Regions from separate parts of the Homo sapiens genome. Here all the other regions are reported to be linked to region 1. The links are microRNA targets in miRTarBase. Many come from high-throughput screens and were not tested one by one. Region 1 holds a microRNA gene; each other region holds the end of a gene's coding sequence. Distances are between the middles of the regions.

Evidence for each region. The annotated mature microRNA hsa-miR-6887-5p reads UGGGGGGACAGAUGGAGAGGACA and lies in region 1 at 5,225-5,247, opposite strand. An mRNA with a match to its seed (bases 2 to 7 or 8) in the 3' UTR can be bound and repressed. Matches are read on the target gene's strand: a 7mer-m8 pairs with bases 2 to 8, a 7mer-A1 pairs with bases 2 to 7 and ends in A, and an 8mer does both.
Region 2: miRTarBase lists MLLT1 as a target of hsa-miR-6887-5p. The part of its 3' UTR that is shown has no 7-base or 8-base seed match.
Region 3: miRTarBase lists WWP2 as a target of hsa-miR-6887-5p. Seed matches in the 3' UTR shown: 7mer-A1 at 1,407-1,413.
Region 4: the mRNA of PHF7 is a reported target of hsa-miR-6887-5p. The part of its 3' UTR that is shown has no 7-base or 8-base seed match.

The regions. Positions count from the first base shown.
Region 1 is chr19:35,120,837-35,127,951 of GRCh38, reverse strand. It overlaps MIR6887 (microRNA 6887), which reads right to left and starts at 5,252; the gene lies at 5,188-5,252. FXYD3 (FXYD domain containing ion transport regulator 3) reads right to left here. Exons shown (of 9, transcript NM_005971.4): 4 at 6,842-6,874; 5 at 6,707-6,730; 6 at 5,113-5,187; 7 at 4,998-5,034; 8 at 4,644-4,681; 9 at 3,628-4,511. The coding sequence ends at 4,495. It overlaps LGI4 (leucine rich repeat LGI family member 4), which reads left to right. Exons shown (of 9, transcript NM_139284.3): 7 at 935-1,099; 8 at 1,177-1,682; 9 at 2,445-3,439. The coding sequence ends at 2,759. RefSeq lists enhancers at 3,558-3,647, 3,918-4,805, 4,806-5,695.
Region 2 is chr19:6,206,594-6,213,694 of GRCh38, forward strand. It overlaps MLLT1 (MLLT1 super elongation complex subunit), which reads right to left. Exons shown (of 12, transcript NM_005934.4): 11 at 6,744-6,815; 12 at 3,788-6,577. The coding sequence ends at 6,449. Among named protein-coding and RNA genes, the nearest start is that of MLLT1, 70 kb to the right of the region's middle.
Region 3 is chr16:69,938,555-69,945,669 of GRCh38, forward strand. It overlaps WWP2 (WW domain containing E3 ubiquitin protein ligase 2), which reads left to right. Exons shown (of 24, transcript NM_001270454.2): 22 at 473-569; 23 at 787-859; 24 at 1,287-3,185. The coding sequence ends at 1,386. It also overlaps a transcript of CLEC18A not described here. Among named protein-coding and RNA genes, the nearest start is that of MIR140, 9.0 kb to the left of the region's middle.
Region 4 is chr3:52,422,551-52,429,665 of GRCh38, reverse strand. PHF7 (PHD finger protein 7) reads right to left here. Exons shown (of 11, transcript NM_016483.7): 10 at 6,785-6,906; 11 at 6,025-6,575. The coding sequence ends at 6,349. Among named protein-coding and RNA genes, the nearest start is that of PHF7, 15 kb to the right of the region's middle. RefSeq lists enhancers at 873-972, 1-1,700.

The DNA of each region.
Region 1 (7,115 bases):
GGTGAATGGGGGTCCCGGGATAATGCAGCCTCTAGCTGGGTGGCCTGGTGACCAGCTCCAATCCTCTCTCCTGGAAGGTGGGAAGGATGGATTTTGTTGGATAACAGACTGCCTGTGCCAGTTAGCCTTTGTTTTCTCATCTGCGAAGGGGAAATCATCACAGAATGTACCTCACAGGGATGTTGTGAAGTTAAATGAATTAATCCAGATGCTGTTTCTAAGGGATTATTTGGTGATGCCACACAGCTTAGAAAATAAGATTTATGGGCCGGGCACGGTGCCTCACGCTTGTAATCCCAGCACTTTGGGAGGCCGAGGCGGGCAGATTATGAGGTCAGGAGTTCGAGACAAGCCTGGCCAACATGGTGAAACCCCATCTCTACTAAAAATACAAAAATTAGCTGGGCGTGGTAGCGGGCGCCTGTAATTCCAGCTACTCGGGAGGCTGAGGAAGTAGAATTGTTTGAACCCAGGAGGTGGAGGTGGCTCATGTCTGTAATCCCAGCACTTTGGGAGGTCAAGGCAGGAGGATCTCTTGAGCCTAGGAATTCCAGACCAACCTGGGCAACATAGCAAGACTCCATCTCTGCAAAAAATAAAAAAATAGCCAGCCATGGTAGCACACACCTGTAGTCTCAGCTTAAGAGGCTGAGGAAGGAGGATTGCTTGAGCCTAGAAGGTGGAGGCTGCATTGAGCTATGATTGTGCCACTGCACTTCAGCCTGGGAGACACAGTGGGACCCTGTCTCAAAACAAAACAAAATACCCCTCGACCCAAACCAAACAAACATCTACAGATCAAGATTCCAGTTATATGTCCCTATGAGGGGGGTACCATGAATGGCCTCCATTTCAGAGATGTAGGCAAACTGAGGCTCAGCAATGAGGACCCTGGGGGTCCTGGGGCCTGCCTGACTCTCTTCTCCACCCACAGAGCTGTCCTGGTTCCAGACGGTGGGGGAGTCGGCACTGAGCGTAGAGCCCTTCTCCTACCAAGGGGAGCCTCACATTGTGCTGGCACAGCCCTTCGCCGGCCGCTGCCTGATTCTCTCCTGGGACTACAGCCTGCAGCGCTTCCGGCCCGAGGAAGAGCTGCCCGGTGAGCCCCCTCCCCGTCCTTCTGCCTGTCCAGCAGCCTGCCTGGCTGGCCTGACCTGCCTCCCCACCTCCCCACAGCGGCCTCCGTGGTGTCCTGCAAGCCACTGGTGCTGGGCCCGAGCCTCTTCGTGCTGGCTGCCCGCCTGTGGGGGGGCTCACAGCTGTGGGCCCGGCCCAGTCCCGGCCTGCGCCTGGCCCCAACGCAGACCCTGGCCCCGCGGCGGCTGCTGCGGCCCAATGACGCCGAGCTCCTGTGGCTGGAAGGGCAACCCTGCTTCGTGGTGGCCGATGCCTCCAAGGCGGGCAGCACCACGCTGCTGTGCCGCGACGGGCCCGGCTTTTACCCGCACCAGAGCCTGCACGCCTGGCACCGGGACACGGACGCTGAGGCCCTGGAGCTGGACGGCCGGCCCCACCTGCTGCTGGCCTCGGCTTCCCAGCGGCCCGTGCTCTTCCACTGGACCGGTGGCCGCTTCGAGAGACGCACAGACATCCCCGAGGCCGAGGATGTCTATGCCACACGCCACTTCCAGGCTGGTGGGGACGTGTTCCTGTGCCTCACACGCTACATTGGGGACTCCATGGTGAGGCTGGGCCTGGGGGCGGGGGGCTGGCTTTTCAGCACTGACCCAATCTTGCACACTAAGCCTCTAAACTCTGACCTACCCTCACATGCCGACCTTTGAACCAGGACCCCACCCCACACTGATGCCAAGACTCTGACCCCCTCAAGGCTGGCTGACTCCGAACCACTCCCCAGTCCCCGACACTGATGCTGGCCCCAACATCCTGATTCTACCCCCAAATGCTGGCTCTGTGACTCGGATGCATTCCAGACTTCACCACAGCCACACCTGTCCCCACCCTGACACTGAGCCCCCAAGGCTGATGCTAGGGTTAAGCACTGCCCACTGTTTCTGGAGTGAGGTGCAGGCAGGGGAGGGTTCTGAGTCTGGAAGGGCCCTGATCTGACTCAGGTGTTCACAAGGTCTCTGGGTGGGGAACAGACTGGGGGAGCAGGGAGAGGAGCCTAGAGGCCAGGGAAGAGGCTGCCAGGATGGTCCAGTCAGGAGGGGATGGAGTTCAGCCAGAGGTGGTGGGAGAAATGTACAACTGTAGAAGGTGAAACTGACAGAGTCCATGGCTGAGTGCTTCTGTGTGGGGCGTGAGGGCAAGGGAAGGGCTCAGAACAACTGCATGTGTGTGGCCGAACAGGTGGGTGGTGACTTTTATGAAGATAAGAAAGCTATGGGAGTTTTGGGACCGACAGGCTTCTGCTTCCAAGCTGTTCCACGGCCCCCAGAGACCCCCGGGACCCCAGGCCCTCACTGGCCACACCCCCACAGGTCATGCGCTGGGACGGCTCCATGTTTCGTCTGCTGCAGCAACTTCCCTCGCGCGGTGCCCACGTCTTCCAGCCACTGCTCATCGCCAGGGACCAGCTGGCCATCCTAGGCAGCGACTTCGCCTTCAGCCAGGTCCTCCGCCTTGAGCCTGACAAGGGGCTCCTGGAGCCACTGCAGGAGCTGGGGCCTCCGGCCCTGGTGGCCCCCCGTGCCTTTGCCCACATCACTATGGCCGGCAGACGCTTCCTCTTTGCTGCTTGCTTTAAGGGCCCCACACAGATCTACCAGCATCACGAGATCGACCTCAGTGCCTGAGACCACCAACGGGACTCTGGGCATGGCTGGGGCCCCTGGACGGCCCCTTGGCTGGCTCCTGGCCCTACTTGGGGTGATGGCCCGCCTGTGAGCTGCTGACCGTGGGCCACGTTCATCAGCCACACGTCTAGGCCTTAAGCCCACTTCTTAAAGGATCTGCACCCATGGGGGGACATAGAGGGTCCCAGCCTACTGGACCTCCCGAGCTGCCCTTCAGGTCTAAAGCAACATCTGGACATCTCGGCTGGGGCAGATTCCCCATCAAAGGCAACCTGGGGGGTGCAGGCTGGTGCACTGCATGGAGTCGAGGTGGAGGTCACGTGCAGAGCTCCATGAGGTCCCGGAGCCCCCCTCTCAACCCGCTCCTACCCCGCTGGTCCCTCTGAAAGCACCGAGGGGTTGATGGCATTCCTTTCCCATTCTAAACTCCACGCAGCCAATCGCTTTCCTGGAGGAGCGCCAACCTCGAAGACAACTCAGCACTGGGCGGGTTCCCCTCTGCTGCTTGTGCGCATGCGTGCGGCCGCCCAGCAAGCTGTGCCTTTTGCGCCTCTTGCGCGTGCGCCGGGGCACAGGGAGGGACAGCGGGAGGTGTCGCGGGGAGCCTGGTGCCCTTCTAGATGGGCGACGGAGGCAAGGACAAGACGAGTCCGAGCTCAATAAATGCGCTGTGCACCCTCCCCGCCCAGTGTTGTGGATCCTTGGGAGAGGATGTCCTGTGAACGGCACAGGGCGGGGATGGTGTCCCTGGAGCAGTGCTCGGAGCGGCCCAGGTCCCAGGGAGGCGTTTCCGCAGTTCATGGTCTCTGAGTGTGGGTTCGTGGTTATGGAGGGACTCAGGGGATGTTTGAGGGATAAAACGGCATGATGAGGGGACAAGTCACGAGTTTATTGTGGGTCTCTTTTTGGGTTCATGTTTCAGGACATTGGAGGAGATATTTTTGGGTGTTTTGAGTTTTAGGCGTGTTGTGGGGTAGTTCATGAGAACATTTCGCATGCCTTATTAGGTATTGGGGAGTCTCAAGGGACTTTGAGGCTTGTTGGAAGTTCTCACACTATGTGGTCATTGTATGTTATTAAGGGTAGCATAGGGAATTATTTAACGGGCTTGCAGGGACATTTGGGTATTTGGAAAGATCTTGTAATAAAGTGAGGTCTCGGGGTAAGTGAGAGGGTCACAGGGGCTTACTATTATAAACTGTCTGAACACTTCCATCATAGCGGGACGATCCTATGTCCCAGTTTTCCTGGAATGGTCCAGGGTCCACTGGAATGTTCCAGTGTTCCATCTGGTTAGAGCTCTCTTTCATTCCTTTTGGCTACTAGTAAATCCCAAATTGCATATGAGGTTCCCATGGCTGAGGAGGCAGAGGGCGGGCCTGTGCCATGTCCCAAGCCACAAGGGAACAGGCCTGTGGGCTTTTCCCAACAAGCAGGCTCAGTGCCAGCCTCTGTGTCAGCCTCCAGGGCACGCCAACCTTCTCATGGTGCCCCAAGCCCCACCCCAATGCACACATAGGAAGTCTCCAGGCTGCTTGGGCAGAGGCACAATCATTTTAGATTAAAAAAAATTGAACAAAGAGACCCTCTTGCGAGAGGTGAGATGAGGCCCTGCCATGCAAAGGAGTCCCAGCAGAGGAGGAAGAATTCCATCCTGGAGTTCAAGTTTCTGTGCAGAGACAGGACCTGGGGACAGAGAACGGTCCTCCACCCAATTTCAGCTGGTCTGTCCTCATCAGCTTTGGGCTGAGCCTGCGGGAAGTGATGGGGTCCGTTTGTGAGGGTGGATTGAGTTCTTTTCTTTCCAGTGTGCAAACACACACATACACACACACACACACACCACTTCCGTGTTCCCCTGAGCCCCATGCTGCCCCATCTTACCTGGGGTGATGAGAGGTGGAGTCTCCCCTGGATGGTGACTAAGGAGACAAAAGTGGTGAGATTGGTGTCCGCCCCCATTTGCCCTCTCCCTCCGGATAGAGGGTTCTTAGCCTGCCCAGACATGTCTTCCTGGCTGCCTTTCCATTTGGGGGGTTGTGCAATCCCAGGGGCCAAAGCATTTCAGGATTTGGGGCCCCCTGGGGATTACCAGCTAGAAACAATAAACCTGGAAATCTTAGCGGCAGGAACTCTAAAGGGCAGAGCCCCGAGGCCTCTCCTGCTGGGAGAGTTAGCCCTTTCACCCTGAAAAGCGTCCAGTCAGCCTGAGGCGGGCATGCCGGAACAGTATCTTACCCGGACTTCTGGCCAAACTTGCATTTGCATTTTGCACCTGTTGGGGAGAGCTGAGTGGTCAGGGGAGGGGAGCCCCAGCCCCGGCCCGCCTGCTCCCCCGAGCTCCTCCACTCACTCATGACGATGATGATGCCCATGGCGCACAGAACCCCAGCGCAGATGAGCCCGCCAACCTGGAGGCTGTGCCAGTCTAGGAGGAAAGTGGAGGGGACCTCAGTGCCAGCCTGTGTCCTCTCCATCTGTCCCCCCATTCTCTTGACAAATATATATGGAGCACCTAGGATGCACAGGGTGCTGGGGACACCGCCATAAGAAAACAGACAAAATCCCAGGTGCTCACATTCTGGTTCACACACCAGCAAACACGATCTGTCGTGCAGGGTCAGGCAGAGATAAGTGGTTTGAAGAAAAATAAGTGGGGTGGGAGATGGAAAGTCAGAGGGCGGGCTGGGCATAGTGGCTGACACCTATTAGGTTGGAGCAAAAGTGATTGCGTTTTTGGCTAGACATGGTGGCTCACGCCTGATATCCCAGCACTTTGGGAGGCCAAGGTGGGCGGATCACCTGAGGTCAGGAGTTCCAGACCAGCCTGGCCAACATGGTGAAACCCCGTCTTTACTAAAAATACAAAAATTAGCCAGGCATGGTGGTAGGCGCCTGTAATCCCAGCTACTCAGCAGGCTGAGGCTGGAGAATCATTTGAACCCGGGAGGCAGAGGTTGCAGTGAGCCAAGATTGCACCATTGCACTCCAGCCAGTCACACTCTGGGTGAAAGAGCAAAATTCTGCCTCAAAAAAAAAAAATTGCATTTTTGCCATTAAAAGCAGTTGCAAAAACCACAATTACTTTTGAACCAACCTAATATAATCCCAGTGCTTTGGGACTTCAGGAGTTCAGGAGTTCTAGACCAGCTTGAGCAACATAGTGAGAACCCATCTCTACAAAGTATACAAAAATTAGCCAGGCATGGTGGTGTATGCCTGCAGTCCCAGCTATTCAGGAGGCTGAGGCAGGAGGATCGCTTGAGACCAGGAGTTTGAGGCTGCAGTGAGCTATGATTACACCACAGCACTCCAGCTTGGGCAACAGTGTGAGACGCTGTCTCTAAAACAAAAAAAAAGTCAGATGGCAGCTCTTTTAGAGGGAGTTGTCAGGGAAGGCCTCTCAGGGGGCTGCATTTGAGCAGAGGGAAGGGAGGGAGCCATGTGGTTCTGTGGAAGGAAGTGTTCCAGGCAGAGGAACCAGCAGGTGCAGAGGTCTGAGGCTGGCAGTATGTCTGCTGTGTCTGAGAGGCTTGGAGCAGAAGGAATGAGGAGCGTGGAGAGGTGAGGGCAGAGCGGGGAGTAGGGAGCAGGTCATTGGAACCTGGAGGCCAGATGAGGGTTTTGATCCAATAGCTCACCACCTCCAGGAAGTTTTCTCAAGTCAACACTTCTCCCAGCAGTTGATCTGAACCAACCAATGGCTTCTTGCAAACTGTCCTCACCTCCTGCGTGTGTCTATCTTGCTGGAATAGAACCTTCCCAAAGGCCAGGTTGCTGCCTCTAGTTCCTTTAATCCACTGTGTGGCATATTCAGTAACCCCATCCTAGTCCCTTCGTATCTTTGTCCTGTGATGCTCACGTCAGGCCCCAACCCTGTATGGGAACCCTTGGCACCAAGCAGTATGTGGGGTTGTGGGGAGGGGAAAGGGGGCACGGGCTCTCACCATAGTAGAAAGGACTGTTTTTATCTGCAAGGAAAGAAAAAAGATCATGAATCCAGGATTACAGCCAGGATGCAGGCCTTCCCCACCCAGGGGAGAATTTGGGGGTGTGACGGGTGAGAGTCCAGTCTGACTCACCTTCTAGGTCATTGGCGTCCAGGACAGGAAAGCCTAGTGGGAGAAGAGGGGAAGGAGGGGAGATGGTGATGCCGGCCTCAGCCAAGCCTTTGGGCAGGGCCTGGGGAGTTTCAGGGGCCTTGGGAAAGGGTCTCCTGCGGGACAGGGGTCCTGTCACTGAGCAGCCACCTCATCCCCTCATATCCCAACGAGGAAATGTGGACTCGCCCACTCAGCCCCACACCTCCGAGTCACGCCAGCATTCTGCCACCTGAAATGGGTTCTAATCTAGGAG
Region 2 (7,101 bases), 29 Mb from region 1:
GTAATCCCAGCACTTTGGGAGGCCAAGGTGGGAGGATCGCTTGAGCCCAGAAGTTCAACACCAGCCTGGGCAACATATCGAGACCTCATCTTTACAAAAATTAAAAAACAAACAAACAAAATTAGCTGAGCCTGATGGCATGTGCTTGTGGCCCCAGCTACTCTGGAAGCCATCGTGGGAGGATTGCTTGAGCCTGGGAGGGTGAGGCTGCAGTGAGCCGTGATAGCGCCACCCCATGCCAGCCTGGGTGACAGAATGAGACCCCGCCTCAAAAAACAAAACAAATGGGCAGGGTGCGGTGGCTCACGCCTGTAATCCCAGCACTTTGGGAGGCCAAAGCGGGCAGATCACCTGAGGTCAGGAGTTCAGAACCAGCCTGGCCAACATGGTGAAAGCCCCTCTCTAAAAAAATACAAAAATTAGTCGGGCATGATGGCGGGTGCCTGTAATCCCAGATATTTGGGAGGCTGAAGTGGCAGAATCACTTGAATCCAGAAGGCAGAGGTTGTAGTGAGCCAAGATTGTGCCATTACACTCCAGCCTGGGTGACAGAGCGAGACTCCGTCTAAAACAAAAACAAATTAAAATTAAAACGTCAGAACAACAGATAAAAATATTCTGAAACATAAGCGGATTCATTTATATGAAGAAAAAAGCATGCAAGAATATCTGGGAAAATTCTGAAGCAGAATTATAAAGGGAAACTACCACTACCAGACTTTTTTTTTTTTTCAGACGGAGTTTCACTCTTGTTGCCCAGGCTGGAGTGCAATGGCTTGATCTCGGCTCAACGCAACCTCCACCTCCCGGGTTCAAGCGATTCTCCTACCTCAGCCTCCCGAGTAGCTGGGATTACAGGTATGCGCCACCACACCCGGCTAATTTTGTATTTTTAGTAGAGACAGGGTTTCTCCATATTGGTCAGGCTGGTCTCGAACTCCCGACCTCAGGTGATCTGCCCGCCTCGGCCTCCCAAAGTGCTGGGAGTACAGGCGTGAGCCACTGCGTCCGGGCACACTACCAGATATTAATTAGGTCACACAGTGGCAGAAATGTAAAGGTGAGTACTGTGCATATGAGGGAAGCCAGAGAGAGACACAAACGTATGCAGGAATTGAAAAATGCAACCAAAGACGGCATCTCAAATAAGTGAAGACAGGTTATTCAATAAATGGGGTGGATCGCCTTGCATAGCTATTGGGGAAATAGAGCTGGGGCCCTACCTCATGGCTGAATAAATTCCAGATGGAACAAATTGAAATGTGAGAAAGAAAGAGGGAAGGGAGGCAGGAAAAGGGGGAAGAAGAATTGAATTCCTAGGAGAAATCATGGGAGAACTTAAAATAAAAACATCCTAAATAATAAACAATAACAGCCCAAAAACCATTTCAAGGAAAACTTGATCACTTGATAATGGATCACTTGAGGATAGGAGTTCCAGACCAGCCTGGGTGAGAGTGATAGTCCATCTCAAAAAAAAAAAAAGAAAGAAAAAGAGCCAAGCGCAGTGGCTTACGCCTGTAATCCCAACACTTTGGGAGGCCGAGGTGGGTGGATCATGAGGTCAGGAGTTCAAGACCAGCCTGGCCAAGATGGCGAAACCCCGTCTCTACCCAAAATACAAAAATTACCAGGGTGTGGTGGTGAGCTCGTGTAATCCCAGCTACTCAGGAGGCTGAGGCAGGAGAATGGATTGAACCCGGGAGGCGGAGGTTGTGGTCAGCTGAGCTCGCACCACTACACTCCAGCCTGGGTGACAGAGCGAGACTCCATCTCAAAAAAGTTAAAATTAAAAATTAGAAAAAATCCTGGGCAACTCGGCTTGCTGAGGCAGTTTCTTTATCTGTAGACAGGGATGAAGCAGTGCCCACCTCACGGAGTGCTTGTGAAGAGTCCATGAGACAACTCTTAGGGAAAGCCTGACTACATTTTTTTTTTTTTTGAGTTGGAGTTTCGCTCTTGTTGCCCAGGCTGGAGTGCAATGGTGTGATCTTGGCTCACCGCAACCTCTGCCTCCTGGGTTCAAGCAATTCTCCTGCCTCAGCCTCCCGAGTAGCTGGGATTATAGGTGCCTGCCAGCACGCCCAGCTAATTTTTCCTATTTTTAGTAGAGACAGCCTTCACCATGTTGGTTAGGCTGGTCTCAAACTCCTGACTTCAGGTGATCCACCCGCCTTGGCCTCCCAAAGTGCTGGGATTAGAGGCGTGAGCCACCTCGCCCAGATTTTTTTTCTTTTTTTTTAGTACAGGGTCTCTCCTGTCGCCCAGGCTGGAGTGCAGTGCAGTGGTGCAATCTCGGCTCACTGCAACCTCTGCCTCCTGGGTTCAAGAGATTCTTGTGACTCAGCCTCCCAAGTAGCTGGGTCTACAGGTGTGCACTGTACTTTAGGCTAATTTTTGTGTTTTTACTAGAGACAGGGTTTCGCCATGTTGCCCAGGCTGGTCTTGAACTCCTGGCCTCAAATGATCCACCCGCCTCGGCCTCCTAAAGTGCTGGGATTATAGGTGTGAGCCACCATGCCTGGCCAGAAAGCCCTACCACGTTTTTACACATCCATAGTCCTTCCACTGCACCTTGGAGGGTCTGGGAACCCTGAAGGAACCACTGTAGACCTTCTTTCACTCCATATTCTTACTTTAGGAGCTCAGACCCAAAACCATACCCCGAAGGCCTAAAAGAACCTTTCTCTGGTAAGGCACGGGGCAGGGAAAGCCACACTCTGATGCTGGGAATGGATCTTTTGGTTCCAGAGTAGAAGGGAGAAGACATGCTCCAGAGTCCCCAGCGCTAAGCTGAGCCCAGCTGAGTCCCCAGCTGCTGCCTGCTGACAAAAGTGATCTCAATCAGTGGCTGCCACGGTGATCCTGTAATGTGGGCTGCTCAGGAATGGAACTCCTGCTCCTCTGGGTGGAGCTGGAGCTGGAGCACAGAGGGGACAGATCTGCTCAAATGGGGCCAGTGACAGCTTTGTCTCCTGGAGGTTCACTGAGCTCTGCCACACTGAGGCCAGAGAAAAACCCACCAGAGGGAAACTGGGAGATGGCACGCTGGCTCCTGGGAAAAAATGTCTTTGCCTACATTTTTATTTCCGTCCATCCAACCATCCATCCATCCATCCATCCATCCATCCATCCATCCATCCATCCACGCATCCATCCTTCCTTCCTTCCATCCACCCATTAACCCATCCATTGATCCACCCATCCATTCATTCTTCCATCCACTCACCCATCTATCCATCCTTCCTACCATCCATCCTTTCCATCCATCCACCCATCTGCCCTTCCTTCCCTCCTTCCGTCCTTCCCTCCCTCCTTTCCTCCTTTCCTTCCTTCCTTCCATCCACCCATCGATCCATCCATCCTTCCATCCTTTCTTCCACCCACCCACCCATCTATTCATCCATGGTCCACCCAACCAATCATCCACTCATCCATCAAACCACCCATCCACTCACCCACCCATCTGTTCATCCATCATCCATGCATCCACCTTATGAAACCAAGTTTTCTTCTCAACCCAAACCTTGCTGTCTGCTTCCAAGTAGAGAGCACAGCATCAGAAGCAGGATGTGAGCCGAATTCTCTGCCCTCTTGAATTGCTGGTAGCATCGTCTCCAGCCTTGCTCACACTCCCCACCCCCACCAGGCTTGGTCCCAACCCTCCTTCTCTGTTTTGGTCACTGATCTGGGGGCACTGGGACACGTAGTCGGGGCAGGGGGCCCCAGGCTACCTCGCAAGCCTGCCCACTGACTGGACAGGAGGAACCAGGCAGATGCATGCGTCTGCTTTCCCATCTGACTTTATTTCACTTTTTTTTTCTATAAAACTCCTCCATAATTTCACAATTTAACAAAAGTTTAAAATCCAGGAAAGAAACAATCCTGTAACTCGTTACAAACACGATTCTCCTTATTCCTTTTATCCAGGAGTTGGTCTCGGGCCGATGAGTGTCCTAGTTCCTAGTGAGACACGTTCTTTGTAAAAACCCTTATGGGCAAGAAAGGTATTCGATACCATTTGCTTTCCGGCGTCGGTTTACATTTTTGTTCAGGAGAGAGCAAAACACAGAGATTTGCACTGGGGGCAGGCGGCTTAACAGGAAACACGTGGCAATCACAAAGTGCCAGGCCCCTTTCCTATGGAAGTGTCCCCAGAGCCCTCGTGGGCCCAGCCGCCGGGCAGCTGGGGTGGGGTGGGAGAGCAGCTGGGGATGCTGCCTTGGGAGCCCATGCTGCCCAGCACGTCCATCAGGTGGTCACGGAGCCAGCCCTGGGCCCAGAGCAGCTCTGGAGGACAACGTGAGGCCTTCCGGCCAGAGGAGGTAACTGAGAACTGGGTTGGTGCTTCCGGAGGCCTTGGAAACGGCAGGAAGGGCCAGACGCCACCACCGAGAGCAGGCGGGGGAGCCCGACCCTCCTCTGGCTGAGTGGAAGGCTGCTCGAGTCGCTGTGTGGATTTTGGGGGACTCCTGCGAAGGAGAAAGGCCAGCACCCTGGGCTGAGGTTCCTGTCCGTGACCCCGGCGGCCTCTTGTGCGTAGAGCTCCCAGCAGCACGGGCCCCCGGTCAGCCCCCCTCAGGCCAGTTCCTTCAGTCCAATGTCTTAGTTTCCAGAGAAGAAAGGAAGCGCCCCATGGTGGAGTATTGTTGGCCGCCCTGGGAAGGGGAGAGGGGGCACAGGGGCCTGCCCTCTTCCTGATACCTGAAGGCAGTGGGGCCGGGAGAGAAACAGAGCAGGTGGCGAGGAGTCCCGGAGGCTTCCTCCGAAGGTTCTCGGGCCTTTCCCCGAGAGTTCTGGGGAGTTTCCCCAGGACAGCTGGCATTGGGGGCAGCCTTGGAGGCATGGGTCCCCACCAAGGAGTGTTCAGGATCTGCTGACAGAATCAGAGCAGGGACAAGATGAGGGACCTCAGGGAGGGACAGATGGAGCCCCCCAAGTCTGAACTCATAGGCTGGGGAGGAGGAGACATCTAGGTGGGTTCGAGGGGGTGCGAGCCCACCTCCAGGCCCTCAGCCCTCTTTTCCTCATAACTTGGTCAGGGCACAAGGACTTGAAAGGACTTGAAAGTCAGGGGGTTGAGAGGACTGGAGGCGCCTCGAGTCAATGTCTGGGAAACAGAGGCTAACCAGGCAGGCCTCCAGCCCCTGGGACCCCCAGCCACGATGGGCTGGCTCCGCGGGAGCGTCCTGGCCCTGGAAGAGTGGGCCGGGAAGGAGGACCGGCTTGGCCCCTGGAGAATCTCAGGCATACCAGGAGTGGGGCTGCGGGCGCGGCACCAGCATGAATTGCGGCGGTGGAGGCCGGGGCGGGCCAGGCCGCGACCAGAGAGAAAGGCAGCCTGGGAGGGCCAGCCCGGCCAACCCACCGGGCCTGCTGATGGCCGAGCCCACGCTCGAGGGGCTGACCAGAGTTCAATGCGCCTCAGAAAACTCCATAAACTATCCCGTCTTATTTGGCAAAAGCTCATATTTTTTTCAAAGTTTGAAGACTTGAATGAAAGAGAGGAAGAGGAGCCTATGGGAGGAGGCCGAGCCCCAGGGCGGCTGATGCGAGTCTGTCCGCGGAGACTGTTGGCGCTAGTCTGAGTAGAGCCCGAGAGCAGACTGGTGGCTCCCGGGCGCCCTGAGGACTCGCTGCCCTTTGTAGTGTTGGCTGACCCCCCCGGGAGCCCCGGTAGGAGGCGGCGGCATCCTTGGAACGGCAAAGGGAGAATTCCTCCATGCGCCTGGAGAGGGCCAGCTGCCGTGCCTGGCTCGGCCTCCAGCCCCACACCACCGCAGAGACATCTTAACCTACAAGCCCCACCGTACGCACCCCCCACCCACCCCACGTGCACTGCTGCCACAGAAACGCACATGGACACTGCTCTTGACCAGACAGTGCACACACATATATAATAGAGAGAACTATACAGCACAGACCCCAGCGCAGCGCGAGCCGGGGAGGAGCCGGCGCTAGGTCTACACGGAGGACGACGCAGACACACAGGCAGGGCCTTCTGAGGTCCAGGGTGGGCGGAGGGTGTGTTCTGAACCATTCGGGAGGCTGGAGATGCCCCCCAGCCGTCGATCCGCTGCTCAGAAAGGCTGGGGCAGCGACGCCGCACAGCCCGCCGAGCAGTGGGGGCTGGTCCCAAGGCTGGGCGAGGGGCCCCCGGCCCTGTCTCTGCCCAGAGCTGCCTTCAACACCAGCCGCTCTCTGAGGGGAGCCCAGAGAGCCCGGGGGGCGGCTCCCGTGTGGCCCAGCCCGGCCCCAGGGCTCCTGGCGATGGAGCGGGGAGAGTGGGCAGGGAGCCGCCGAGGAAAGTGCAGCGGGCTGTGCGGGCGAGGACAGGGCTGTCGCTAAGGCAGTGCTGCGGGCAGGCGAGACGGGAGAGGAGGGCAGGCGAGGCCTGGCTGCAGCCTCCCAGGACCCCGGCGGTGGGGGCCCGGCACGCGGCCCAGGGTCATGTGGCCACGGCCTCCAGGCAGCTCTGCAGTTTGCGCACGGTGGTCTCGTCCAGGGAGAAGAGGTCGAAGTCGAAGGTGGTGTTGGTGACATTGAAGTGGCCAGTCTCCTCGATCAGATTCACAATCTGTAAGGTGGTGGCAGGTGGCTTCAGGGGCAGGGGGCCAAGGGTGGGGTTGCCCTGTTCCCTAACAGAGGTAGGGGCTCCTGGGGCAGCACCAGGGGCCCCCGCAGCCCACACTCCTCACAGGCACCCCGACCTCTGCCGGGCAGGACCCTCAGGGGGGCGATACCTGCTGCAGCACGTTGCGCTCCCGCAGCGCCATCAGCCTCCGGTGTAGCTCCACCAGCTCATCCGTGTAGGCCTGGGGAGGGGGGGCAGGTCTCAGCAGCGTGTGGGGGCCCTGGACCCTTCCTGCTCCCATGCCCAGCCCCACCCATGACCCAGTCCATCCCAGCACAGGACAGAGGTAGCCACATCCAAACCAAGGAAGGCCCAAGGCTGCAGGGGCAGCCCCTCAGCTCCAAGGCCACACCGGGAGGGGAGGAAGGACTGTCCCTGCTCCTGCCCAGGAAGAGTCCAACTGTGGGGTGTTGGGGGGCTCTGGGGTCCTCCACTGGCTGCAACTCCCACCACCCACCCCTCCGTAG
Region 3 (7,115 bases), not on the chromosome of region 1:
ACTGCAGTGAGCTGGACCGTGCCACTGCTCTGCAGTGAGCTGGACCGTGCCACTGCACTCCAGCCTGGGCGACAGAGCAGTGGCTTCCAGTACATTCACAGTGTTGTGCACCTGGCACCACTATCTAATTCTGGAACATTTCATCTCCCCAAAAACCTTATACCCATTAAGCAGTCACTCCCATATTTAGTCATCTCTAAAAGCAGAACGTGGATGGGAAGAGAATACCCAGCCTGAGGTGTCCCTGAGACCCAGAGATGTCCCATGGACTGGTGGGAATCTCATGCACACACAGCCTCTTAGCAAAAGCACTTCTGGGGTTTCTCAGGTTGGAGGCTGTCATCCCCTGGCCAACCTGGCTTTGTGTTCTCAGCCCCAAAGAGGGGCCCCGCTGAGCTAGAGAGCTCCACGTTCGGGCAAAGTACTGGGCCCCGTGGGTTGCCTGACTGTGCCTTGACTTGCGGACTTCCAGGTGGTGAAGGAGATGGACAACGAGAAGAGGATCCGGCTGCTGCAGTTTGTCACCGGTACCTGCCGCCTGCCCGTCGGGGGATTTGCCGAACTCATCGGTATGTTTTCTCTCGCCCTCTGGCGTCCTGGCTGGCAGTGCGGACAGCTCAGAGGGAGGGGGAAACCTAGTCTCTTCCTGGAAGCACGTCAGTGGGATGGAGAAGAGCTGTGGCCTCTGCATCCTGGGGCCGAGCCCATCTGTGGGTGGAGCCGGAGGATCCTGCTTTGGGAAGGGACGTCTCTGCTGACGTCGGCGTGTTTTACCTTGGATCACAGGTAGCAACGGACCACAGAAGTTTTGCATTGACAAAGTTGGCAAGGAAACCTGGCTGCCCAGAAGCCACACCTGGTGAGCCTGCTGGTTTTAGTGGGAGGTCGGGGGGCCTCAGACCCGATGAGCTCCTGGGACAGCCCAGTGGGTGTAGCAGCTTCATAGCCTCGAGTCTGGCAGCTTTTGCGTGGCCCTGGGGTGTTGGGTTGGAGAGATGGGGCTGTGATGGGCATCTGATCTACCGGGTTTTACATATGAAGCACTTCTGTTCCAGTAGTCCAAGAGCTACTGCCCCAAGTGTCCCCCGCAACCAATTTCCAGCTGTCCTGGCCCCTCCCTTAACACCCCATGGTCCAGGCACCTGCAATGTGAAGGCCTGACTGGCAGCCCCTGAGCCCTAGCCAGTGTGGTGCAAGCCCTGTGGCCCTGCTGCAGGCAGGCATGGTGGGGCTATCAGAGCCCTGGCCTCCTAGGGCTGACTGTCGTGCTTCCCCACTCTCAATAGCTTCAACCGTCTGGATCTTCCACCCTACAAGAGCTACGAACAGCTGAGAGAGAAGCTGCTGTATGCCATTGAGGAGACCGAGGGCTTTGGACAGGAGTAACCGAGGCCGCCCCTCCCACGCCCCCCAGCGCACATGTAGTCCTGAGTCCTCCCTGCCTGAGAGGCCACTGGCCCCGCAGCCCTTGGGAGGCCCCCGTGGATGTGGCCCTGTGTGGGACCACACTGTCATCTCGCTGCTGGCAGAAAAGCCTGATCCCAGGAGGCCCTGCAGTTCCCCCGACCCGCGGATGGCAGTCTGGAATAAAGCCCCCTAGTTGCCTTTGGCCCCACCTTTGCAAAGTTCCAGAGGGCTGACCCTCTCTGCAAAACTCTCCCCTGTCCTCTAGACCCCACCCTGGGTGTATGTGAGTGTGCAAGGGAAGGTGTTGCATCCCCAGGGGCTGCCGCAGAGGCCGGAGACCTCCTGGACTAGTTCGGCGAGGAGACTGGCCACTGGGGGTGGCTGTTCGGGACTGAGAGCGCCAAGGGTCTTTGCCAGCAAAGGAGGTTCTGCCTGTAATTGAGCCTCTCTGATGATGGAGATGAAGTGAAGGTCTGAGGGAGCGGGCCCTGGGGCGAGGCCATCTCTGCCTGCCTCCCTAGCAGGCGCCAGCGGTGGAGGCTGAGTCGCAGGACACATGCCGGCCAGTTAATTCATTCTCAGCCAATGAAGGTTTGTCTAAGCTGCCTGGGTATCCACGGGACAAAAACAGCAAACTCCCTCAGACTTTGTCCATGTATAAACTTGAAGTGGTTGTGTTGTAGGGTTGCAGGTTTTTTGTTACGCTGCTGTCACTTTCTGTCCAGGAGCTGGCACCCCAGGTGTTCTGAGACCTTGAGGGACCCAGACCTTTGGGTCCAAGAGTTTCCCAAACAGCCACGCCTCTCAGGAACCCACCTGGCGGTTCCGTGAGCTCAGGCAGGCCTGACCCGGCGGCACAGCCTGGCAGGGACCTCGTCCCCAAGCCTGGCAGAATGAGAGGGGTTGAGGTCCCGAGCGCCACTCCTAGCCTTGCCGCCTTCAATAGAGAAGAAATCCCTTTGCTAGATAGGGTCCCCCAGGCAGTCCCCAGTGGCGGGACACAGGGGTCCGGCTGTGGAGCTCCCCTGCCAGCCCCTGGAGCTCCAGGAGGGCCTGTTGGTCCCCTGTTCAGAATGGAGTGCAGCCCGCCAGCGGAAAGTGTTCATTCTGCATAGGTGTGAGGCTTTATCTGCACACAGGACATGAAAACCAGCAGAAAGGCCCTGAGCTGCTGCATAGCCCCATCTGATTTCTGCAGTTCCCGCCAGCCTCCAACACGGGGACTCTGCCGTAACTGGAATCTTCATAGGTCATATTGAAATCTTCAAGGTGACCATGCCCCACCGGGGTGCTGGGGCAGTAGTCATGGCAGACTCCCGGCCTGGGCCCCCAGGATTCTAGGACCCCCAGGCAGCCCCTTGGACTGGTCCCGGGTGCCTTCCAAGCACAGTCTCCATGCTCCCAGATTCTCGACCTTCCCCCGGCCCGGGAGGTGCAGCCTGCGTCTGCCTCTGTCGTGTGTGCTGATTTGAGTGGCTTAGCTTGCCACAGCGCAGCCTCTTCTGTCCCTTTCAGTCATTTGCTGTACTTCCCTGTGGCACGTTACCATGGAAGCCGCTCCAGGGTGGGTCAGGGTGCAAGCTGCTGGTGAGGTTTGGAAGCATCAGGCTCACGGGTGTTCATGTGTGTTCGTGCGTGTGTGTGCGTACGTGTATATAACTGAAGTGTCTGTACGGAATGCCCTTTGCTAGCCATGGGCTGGTCACCAGATTGTTTTGTAATGCCCGCCCCTTGCCTCGATATTGCCAGTTTCTTGTGCAATAAACAATCAGCAGCTGTGGGTGGTGTTGTTGTGGATGTTTACAAAGCCACAGTCCTCCAGTCAAGAGGACTCCGGGCCTCACAGACCCTCCAGGCCTGGATAGGGGTGGAAATTCCCTGACCTCGCTGGTTTTGAGAAGCATGTGTGTCATGGACCGAGGCAGCCCCCGACTTCTGGGCTGGGCAGCTGAGTCCTGGCCCAGGGGTCACCGGCTTCAGCCCTTGGTCAGCTGCCTCACCGTACCCTTTCGGCACCCTCTGCCTCCGCCTGCTGGACCCGGGGGTCTCCAAGCAGTTGCTGTGGGGTGCAGAACAATAACAGCTACAGACTGGGTGGGCTTCCGAAACTGGCTTGCAGGGAGAGTGTTCCAGGCAGTCATTCATTTGGGAAATACTCAGGTTTCACAAGTTCCACGACGGTCGAGGGACTCTGTGATCTTGACCTCAGGGTCACGTAAGGGCTTGCCACCCACTTTTTTTTGTTTTTGACAGATCACCATGCTGGCGGGTCTTGATGCATTTGACAAGGAAGTGACTTTGTCATGGACCAAGCAGGGCCCCGACTGTGCCTCCGATGCTCAGCGGGGCAGACCTGTTCAGAGCGAGCTCCCTCCTGGGTTCGTCAGCTGGACTCACTGCCTCCAGCTCCAAAACCTTATTTTCAGGCAACAGGCCAAGGCTGTACTTGGACAAAATTACTGGAAAAGGTCCAGATGTCTCATGATAAATTCAATAAGACATGCCCCAGTGGAAATCGTTCCCCCAACCCTTGTCCCCAGAGGGACCTACTATTCACAGTTGGCGGTGGCATTTCCAGACGCTTCTGTGCGGGTGGGCAAATCGTTTACACATACGATTTTTAAATATACCAAAAATGGAATATTGTACACACTGCGCAACTCACTTTTTTCATTAAATGAGATGCTATGGACCCCTTTCCATGTTCATCGAAGTAGACACTGCTTAACTCTTTAGCCACAGTGTGATATTCTGTATGATTGCAGTTCTGTAATATGCTCACCTCCTTCCTAAAGGAGGTGGCAGTTGTGTCCCACAGTTTGCTGGTGGCTGTGGAGCTCCGGGAAACGCCCTCGGGCAGGTCTGTGTGCTGCTGCTGCTGCTGCTCTCCTGCTAGGGGACGGTCCTAGAAGTTTGATTGTTGATCATGCACCTTTATTTTTCTTTAAAAATTTGGTGAAGGTTCAGTTGAAAGATGCAAAGGAGCTGCTGTGTAAGGCTTCCCTTACTCTTCTGTCCCTTGGCCACCCTGATGCCTTCCAGGAGGCAACCATCGCTGCTGGCTTCTTTTGGATCTTTCCAGATATACTTTAAAAATCCCAGCGGGGACAGGTGTGGTGGCTCACATCTGTAATCCCAGCACTTTGGGGATTTTTAGTAGACATAGGGTTTCGCCATGTTGGCCAGGCTGGTCTCAAACTACTGACCTCAGTTGATCCTCCCGCCTCGGCTTCCCAAAGTGCTGGGATCACAGGCATGAGCCACTGCATGCCTGGCTGTTTTTGTTTTGTTTTTTATTGTGGTAAAATACACAAATTGCTATCTTAATCATTTTTAAGTGCACAATTCAGTGGTATTAAATACATTCATAACGTTGTGTATCCATCACCATCATCCATCTCCAGAACTCTTTTCGTCTTGCAGAATGGAAACTCTGACCCCGCATTCCTCTTCCCCGCATTCCTCTTCCCCGCATTCCTCTTCCCCGCATTCCTCTTCCCTGCAGCCCGTGGCAACCACCATTCTCCTTTCTGTCCCTTTGATTGTGACTCCTCTTAACTACCTCCTTACGAGTGGAATCATATAGTACTTGTCGTTTCGTGACTGGTTTATTCCACTTAACATAATGTCCTCGTTGTGACTTGTTTATTTCTAAAAGTAACCACTGGCGCCTTGGTGCAGATGGAACTCCAGGTGCATGCGGTGAGTTAACCATGGTCTGGGGAGCTTTGTTTCCACGCCTAGGACATGCATCTGTGTGCATGATATGTGAGCTGATATAGCCATGCCTCTGGTGATTTGAACGCCTGCGCTTCCCAGCTGCTTCAGGGCCCTGAACATCGCTGGATGTTTGTACTTCATTCCCTCCTCAGCCCAGCTGGTCCCACTCCGCAGCTGTGCTCTAGGCATTTCATCTCAACTGGGTGATATATTTGAATACAGCAATTATAAGAACAGCAACCTCAGAAGAACATCTGGCATCCAGACCTCCCCAGCCTAGTTCCACAAGGTACCAACTTCCGTAAGCCTTGAAGAGCTAAGTAAGTCATCCGGGCCGGGTGTGGTGGCTCATGCCTCTAATCCCAGCACTTTGGAAGGCCAAGGCGGGCAGATCACTTGAGGTCAGGAGTTCAAAACCAGTCTGGCCAACATGGTGAAACGCCATCTCTACTAAAAATACAAAAATTAGCCGGGTGTGGTAGTGCATATCTATAATCCCAGCTACTTGAGAGGCTGAAGCAGGAGAATCGCTTGAACCCGGGAGGCAGAGGTTGCAGTGAGCCAAAACCGCACCACTGCACTCCAGCCTGGGCAACAGATCCCTTGGTATAGATACGGGGAGCTTGGGTGGTCTCATCACAGCAGAACGTCAGCTCTTGGCATGTTCTTTTCCTTTGCTACCAGCTTTTGAAACTGAAGTGTAGCAGAGTCATGAACCAGACTTTGAAACATGAACCAGACAGAGAAACATTTTAAGAAGTAGCGGCTGACCAGGAGTTGGAGATTGCAGTGCACTATGATTGCACCTATGAATAGCCACTGCACTCCAGCCTGGGCAACAGAGTGAGACCCCTATCTAAAAAAAAGAAAAAGAAGGGCCAGGCACGGTGGCTCATGATTGTAATCCCAGCACTTTGGGAGGCCAAGGCAGGTGGATCACAAGGTCAGATCAAGACCATCCTGGCTCACACAGTGAAACCCCATCTCTACTAAAGATACAAAAAGTTAGCCGGGTGTGGTGGTGGGTGCCTGTAGTCCCGGCTACTCGGGAAGCTGAGGCAGGAGAATGGTGTAAACCCGGGAGGCGGAGCTTGCAGTGAGCTGAGATGGCGCCACTGCACTCCAGCCTGGGCGACAGAGCGATACTCCGTCTCAAAAAAAAGAAAAAAAAGAATAGGGCCGGGCGCGGTGGCTCACAACTGTAATGCCAGCGCTTTGGGAGGCCAAGGCAGGAGGATCGCTTGAGCCCAGGAGTTTTAGACCAGCCTAGACAACATGGCAAGACCCCGTCTCTACCAAAAATACAAAAAATTAGCCGGGCATGGTGGTGCATGCCCATAGTCCCAACTACCTGGGACGCTGAGGTGGGAGGATCACCTGAACCCCGGAGCCGTGAGCACACCACTGTACTCCAGCCTGGGTGACAGAGTGAGACCCTGTCTGGAAAAAAAAAAAAAAAGTAGCTGGGTATGGTGGCACGTGCCTATCGTCCTACCTGCTCAGGAGGCTGAGGCATGAGGATGGCTTGAGCCCAGGAATTCGAGGCTACTCAGCAATTATGGTACCACTGCACTCCAGCCTGGGTGACAAAGTGAGACCCTCAAATAAAATAAATTGGCCATAAATGTAAGTTTTTTCCTGTATTGTTCATTCTGTTCCCTTGATCTATATGTCTTGTCCTTTTTCCGTATCTTATAGATGTGATTACTAGAAGTTTCATAGCAAGTTTTGAAATCAGGTAGTATACATTCTCCAGTTTTATTCTTTTTCAAATGTGTTTTGGTTATTCTAATTCCTTTGCCTTTCCGTGCAAATTTTGAGATCCAGTTTTCAAATTTTTTTTGAGATGGATCTTGCTATATTGCCCAGGCTGGTCTCAAACTCCAGGGCTCAAGGGATCCTCTTGCCTCAGTCTCCCAAATAGCTGGGATTACAGGCACATGCCACCAAACCTGGCCTCTCAATTGCTTTAAAATAAACACAACAAC
Region 4 (7,115 bases), not on the chromosome of region 1:
TGAAAAGGATGGATACTAATGGCGCGGATGCCTTCCTGTTTATTAGGGGTGTGTGCAGGGCAGGGTCAAGAAGCCAGTTTACACCAAAGACAAGGGGAAGGGGCTCCTGGGGCTTACCCCTTCCATCTGGACCTCATGCTGTCATGTTGCTCAGGGATCCCAGGGTTAGAGCAGGTTTGCTAGGGAGAAGTGAGGGCAAGGGTTTTTTGTTTTGGGAAAAAAATCAGTTCTTCAGTTTTTCTGTCATTTTTTGGAAAAATGTACAAGCCATGACACCTTTGCAAATAGCCAGCTCCTTTGGAATGGAGCTCCCTGGCTTAGTCACTAGGGAGACTTCTCACACCTGGGGGCCCCCATGATGCTGTGACTGGGAGCACATGGGAAACTGATGCTGTCTCCCTGGGGTCAGGGCCAGTGGAGGTGCTGCTTCTCATAGCATCCTCCCACCCTGCCCATAGAGGCTAGAGCCTTTGAGCCACCGTTTGAGCCACCACCCAGAGGTCCTGATGGCAGTGAGTGTGCATTCGTGTGGACAGGTACCTGTGCATGTGTGCATGTGGGAGGAGGGTGGGGCAGAAAAGGAATAGAACCATATCACACATTCCCCCTTGGGACTGGCAGTCGCCATTTTTGGTGGAGGAGAGGGCATCTGGATGCCTCTCAATGAGTAATTGGGAGATATTTTTGGTGGGTTAGGAGAGCCACTTTGGGTCTGGAGAGACTATGAAGGCAGTCTTGTCTAAGGATTTGACCTGTGACGGGGAGCTTTCAAACTCATCTCTAACCCCAACAGGAACGTGCCTCATGAATAAACTCGAACAGATGTGTTTAGAACAATTGAGGCGCAATAAGTCTTATGTAATCCCAAAACAGAAGCAAGATTTTCATAAGCCTTTCCCAGCCTTCCAGGTCTGAGGGTTTATAATCTTCATCGACATGCTAACAGTGCCCTCTGGTGTTTGGCAGCAAAACACAGGCTTATGAATACAGGGTATGGAGCATCCATCAGTTCTGTAGACATTAAACTGCCTCTGAACGTGGAGTCCTGGGCCAGGCATCATGAGGGGAAGAAAGGTTAATAAGACAGACAGGTCCCTGGAGCTTCTGATCTAGCAGGAAAGACAGACCCATAACTGTAGGACAGACAGAGAATGACATGGGCTATAACAGGGGGTACAAACAGAGACAGTAAGAGTGCCTAGAGATGAAGAAGTAGCCCTTAGGCTGTGTTTAACAGGCTGAAGATGGATGCCAGGACTCTCCAGGCTGAGCACCCCAGGCCCGGGCCCAGTGTTCTGAGGCAGCCAGAGAAGAAGGCCTGTGGGTGGGATGTCCTGGGAGATGCAGCTATGGAAGGCCCTGTTTGTAGAAGGTCTTGAATGCCAATCTCAGCAGGGCCATCCTGAGCAAAGAGTTAGCACATGTTTTATGGTAACTGGCAGAAGGGAAAAGGGTGGATGTGTCAGAGAAGCAAGTGGACACAGGAAACCATGCAGACTTTTGCTGCCCATCCTATGAGGCATCAAGGTCTGAGCTGAGCACTGACAATGGGAAGGAGAGGAAGGCAAACATTTGAAAAACAGTCGAACTGACAACAAAGAGGTTGGCTGAACAGAGAGGGAAGCTGAAGGAAAATCTGAGGTTTCTGGCCTTAGTTTACGGTTCCCGTAAAGGTAATGATTAGAGGAAGGGGAGCAGGTGCTTTGGGAAAGTTTTATTTAACATCTATTTCTACTATCCCTAAGTGAACTGATTTGTCCCAGCTCCTAAGTTATGAAACAGTAATTAATTCTAATAAGACACATCAGTTATGAAAATAGGTATTAAAAATTTTAAACATGTGTTTGTCATGAAACAGGCATTTAAAAGAAGATGAGCTTGGGGCATCTTGCAGTGTCAGAAAGTAAAAAAGTGCTCAAAAACAAAACAAAACAAAACCAGACACACAGTGATGGGGATGTGTGAAAAGGACACATGAACACCCAGTGGCCAAAGCAATTTGAGCAACAAAATAAAGTATTATTACATTGTAACCCAAAGTCCAGGAGTCCATACTAAATGATTGAATAGGCTGTGCATGGTGGCTCACGCCTGTAATCCCAGCATTTTGGGGGGCCGAGGTGGGTGGATCACCTGAAGTCAGGAGTTCGAGACCAGCCTGACCAACCTGGTGAACCCCTTCTCTACTAAAAATACAAAATGCCAGGCATGGTGGCGCATGCCTGTAATCCCAGCTACTTGGGAGGCTGAGGCAGGAGAATCACTTGAAACCGGGAGGCAGAGGTTGCAGTGAGCTAAGATCGCACCACTGCACTCCAGCCTGGGCAACAAGAGCGAAACTCCGTCTCAAAAAAAAAAAAAAAAAAAGATTGGCTAAATAAATAAGCAGGAGAGAATAAAATAGGTAAATCTCCCATGCAGAACCATTCCAAATAATTTATGTAGATACTCCATCCTCAAGGAGGAGTTGCATAAAAACCTCTACTTAACTGTGGGCTCCACATAGTGACTTCCCTTTGGAAGGTACAGTATGAAAAGAGGAAAAGCCTGGGTGCGGTGGCTCACACCTGTAACCCCAGCACTTTGGTAGGCTGAGGTGGGTGGATCTCGAGGTCAGGAGTTCGAGACCAGCCTGGCCAACATGGTGAAACCCCATCTCTACTAAAAAAAAATTAGCTGGTGTGGTGGTGCACACCTGTAATCCCAGCTACTTAGGAGGCTGAGGCAGGAGAATTGCTTGAACCCGGGAGGCGGAGGTTGCAGTGAGCCAAGATTGTACCACTGCATTCCCACCTGGGCAACAGAGTACAACTCCATCTAAAAAAAAAAAAAAAAGAAAAAGAAAGAAAAGAAAAGGGGGAAAAAGGGTAACTTTACAGTGGAGAAATCTGACAAAACCTACCTCAGCCAAATGATCAAAGTCAACCTCAACAGTGACAGGTCATGCTGATACTATGTAACTTTGATATGATGTGATGAAAATGGCACTTCTCCTGTGTCTTCCTCCAAAACCCATAACCCCAGTCTAATCATGAGAAAAACATCAGAACAATCCCAGTTAAGAGACACTCTGCAAAATACTTGACCAGTACTCCTCAGAAGTGTCAAGGTCTTCAGAATCAAGGGAAGTCTGCCATTCCATCACAGCCAAGAGGAACCGAAGGAGATACGACACAGTGCAATGTGGTATCCTGGAACAGAAAAGACAAGAAAATCTCAATAAAATTTGGGCTTTAGTTAATAATGATGTATCAATATTCGTTCTTTAATTGTGACAAATTTGCTATACTAATGTGTTAATAGTAGGAGAAATTAGGTTTGGGATATATGGGGACTCTATACTATCTTTACAATGTTTCTGTAAGTCTAAAACTATTCTAAATTAAAAGCTTATTTAAGAAAGAAGCTGGCTGGGTGTGGTGGCTCACACCTGTAATTTCAGCACTTTAGGAGGCCAAGGTGGGCAGATCCCTTGAGCCCAGGAGTTCAAGACCAGCCTTGGCAACATGGTGAAACCTCATCTCTTAAAAAAAAATAAAAAAAATTAGCCAGGCATGGTGGTGCATGCCTATAGTCTTAGCTACTTGGAAGGCTCAGGTGGGAGGATTACCTGAGCCCAGGGAGGTCGGGGCAGTGAGCCATGATCATGCCACTGAACAGAGTGAGACCCTGACTCAAAAAAAAAAAAAAAAAGGGGCTGGGTGCAGTGGCTCACGCTTGTAATCCCAGCACTTTGGGCGGCCGAGGCAGTCAGGAGTTCGAGACCAGCCTGACCAGCTTGGTGAAACCCCGTCTCTACTGAAAATACAAAATTAGCCTGGCATGGTGGTGCGTGCCTATAATCCCAGCTACTCAGGAGGCTGAGGAAGGAGAGAATCACTTGAACCCGGGAGGTGGAGGTTGCAGTGAGCCGAGATCGCACCACTGCACTCCCGCCTGGGCAACAGAGTGAGACTCCCTCTCAAAAAAAAAAAAAAAAAAAAAAAAGAAAGAAAGAAAGAAAGAAAAAGAAAAGCAAAAAGAGGCCAGGCGTGGTGGCTCACACCTGGATTCTCAGCACTTTGGGAGACTGAGGTGGGTGGATCACGAGGTCAAAGAGACTCTGTCTCAAAAAAAAAAAAAAAAAAAAAAAAAAAAAGAAGCCAGTTATTTAGTGGAGAATGACTGATTAGGCCCAGATGAAGAATAGAACATTTCAAAGTTGGACTTTCCAGCCTATAAAAATAGGGTTGGCTATTAACATCAGTGGAGACTAAAAATACAAAGAGTAAGAAATAGTTAATAGCTGTGTGTGTGTGTGTGTGTGTGTGTGTGTGTGTATGCATGCACTGTCGTGTTAGCTAAGCAAGTATCCACAAAGTCAACTGTACACAGAGGTAGGGCAGCTGACATCTAGGTGACAAAAACTGCCCCCTCCCAAGCTCCCTTTCTACCCACTGAAGCTAAAGTCGAGAGGGCACTGTTAGGGGCCATTACTCTCAGTTAAGATAGTGTTTCTCACACTTGGGTATACAAATAGACTCCTTAAGAAAAGATATTAATACTACCACAGATCCCTAAAAATATGCCTGGTGACCCAAGTTACAGAAACTCTAGGTTTAGAACTAAAGTCTTAATCTAAGGAGCATCTTTCAGTTGTGAATTATCACTGCAAGAGTTGAATCTTTAGAATGGGTTAAATATTGTGTTTTATATGAAAGCTCACAATTAAAAAATGTTCCTGTTACTTGCAGAGCTCTGACAAAATTTCCCTGGACGCCCGGATAAGCAAGGATAGCATTGGGTGGTCAAACCCAAGAGAAAGGAAATGAAGAAAAAGGGCATAATTGTGGGAAGCCCTAGGAGGACAGCTGTGCAGGAGCTCTAGGAGCAGCCAGCACTGGAGGCGGCGGCTCTGGGAGGCAGGTCTTCAGGAAAAGAAGTCCAGCTGATAGTGATCTGATGCCTGGTCTATGAGGAAAATTGCATTTTGAGACATTTTGTTGATCATTTGCAACATTTCAGAAGAATTAGCAATAGGTATATACCAAAAAAGAAGCAATTATTAATTTCAGAAAAAAACATTGTACAAAAGAGGAAAGGTAATCATAGTGTACTGCCTGGCTCAGTGGTAAACAGTATTTCTAGCATCATAATAATATAAACATTGAAAGTTAACAAAAATTGTGATACAATTATCTGAGGTGAACGAAAACGGGAAGATTATGTTTTTTTAATTTAATTTTGAGACAGCGTTTTGCTCTGTTACCCAGGCTGGAGAGCAGTGGCGCGATCTCAGCTAACTGCAACCTCCACCTCCCGGACTGAAACGATTCTCCTGCCTCAGCCTCCCAAGTATCTGGGATTATAGGCACCCACCACCGTGCCCGGTTAATTTTTGTATTTTTAGTAGAGATGGGGTTTCACCATGTTGGCAAGGCTGGTCTTGAACTCCTGACCTTAAGTCATCTGCCCGCCTCGGCCTCCCAAAGTGCTGGGATTACAGGTATGAGCCACTGCGCCCGGCCACCTTGCCTAATTTGAATGTCCTGGCATGCAAATTCATATTTAAACTCTGGACGGAAATGCTCGAACCACCGGGCAGTGAGGGTTTGACTGGGCTCACTCATGCTGTGGAGGTGTGCTGAAGCCCACACCAGTCAGGAGAGAATGGAGTCCCTTATGCCCCATGTATAAGCATGGTAGTCCTTGACCTGTTTGAGTCCAGGACCCCAAGCCTTGCAACAAGGGCCTATTCTCCACCCAGTGTGGACTGCTATGCTGGCTCACCTCCCTAATGAGAACCTGTGTACTTATTATTTGCACAATGATTGATGAAGATTCTCTACCTCTGTAATGCCAATTTCCGTATAAACAGGTTTCTTTCCCTCCAAAGAAACATGTCTATATTCTAAGCTAAAAGTTCTACATTAATTCCCTAAATTTTATGGATTAGGAGGGTGAGTTTTCTTACTCTCGTACTCTACCCCGTAGAATCTTTACTACCCAGACAAATTTCAGAATGAATTTATAAGGAGACACCAATGGAGAGAAAACCTTTATTTGCATAACAACAAACATGGGTGAAGTAAGAAGAGGCATATGAAAACAAGATTAAGGTGGAAGAATCCTTGGTGGGAGGAGAGGAGGAGAAAGCAGAGGCACTCTTGTAGCCATAAACGCATTTCCTTGTTGGCATCTGGACTGCTCCCTCCTCATGCTCCACTGAGACTTCTCTTTGCTTGGCTCATAGTCTCACTGCTGGCCCTGCTTCCTTGTCTCACAGTCCCAGAGTGCTCCCTCCCCAAACCCGATGGAGGAGCGCAGCTTCATACCCTATTGTGTGGGACAGCAGCTACTCAGAAGGTGTTACTTGGATTTTTTGCAGCTGTTAGTGATTCTGACACCCTTGGACCTCCAGGAGTAGCTCCTCCTGCCACGAGAGGACTCTGGCTTTTCTAATAAGGAAGGTTCTGGCCAATCAGTCCAAGAAAGGCCCGGATTCTCTTCCAAGGTGTTGTCTCTGCAGAAATGTTCCTCAGGGTGGAAGGTGCTGCTGCAGCAAGGGATGTCCCCTGAGTTTTCAGGTATGTAGTCTGGTGAGAGAAAGGCAGGAGAGGAAAACTCAAGCCTCTGCTTCTCCCAGGCACAGGTCCTTAAGCTCCTCTCTAGCTACTTTCCTTCCAAAGTCAAAGGCACCAACTATTAATCCCCCTCTGGTGGGATGTCTTCCTCCTTTCCCAGGCACCACAAGTCCCTACAGCCCCCTCCTTGCTCTGAGGCCGGCCCATCCCTCCAGCCTCACCTGTGGCTGCAGCAGGTGAACACTCCTCACACTCCCATTTCTTACTGTTAGATCTAAGAGAGGAGCAGTCCCTGTGGGTTCCGTGGGATCCGCATGTAGCACACAGAATGAGGCACCACCTCCTAGAGGAAGAGCCCAGGAAGGGTTGTGGAGACATACAGAACACCAACTGCCATGCTTGGATGTTTGCTATGGGCCAGGCATTTTTTACAGCACATTTTACCCAAGATGAATGTATGGCTCAGAGAGGATGAGTGCTGATCCCAGAAGCCTGCCATCAGTCGTAACCCCTTGAAAGGTAGATTAGGAAAGGAATTGGCTCTGAATGTCT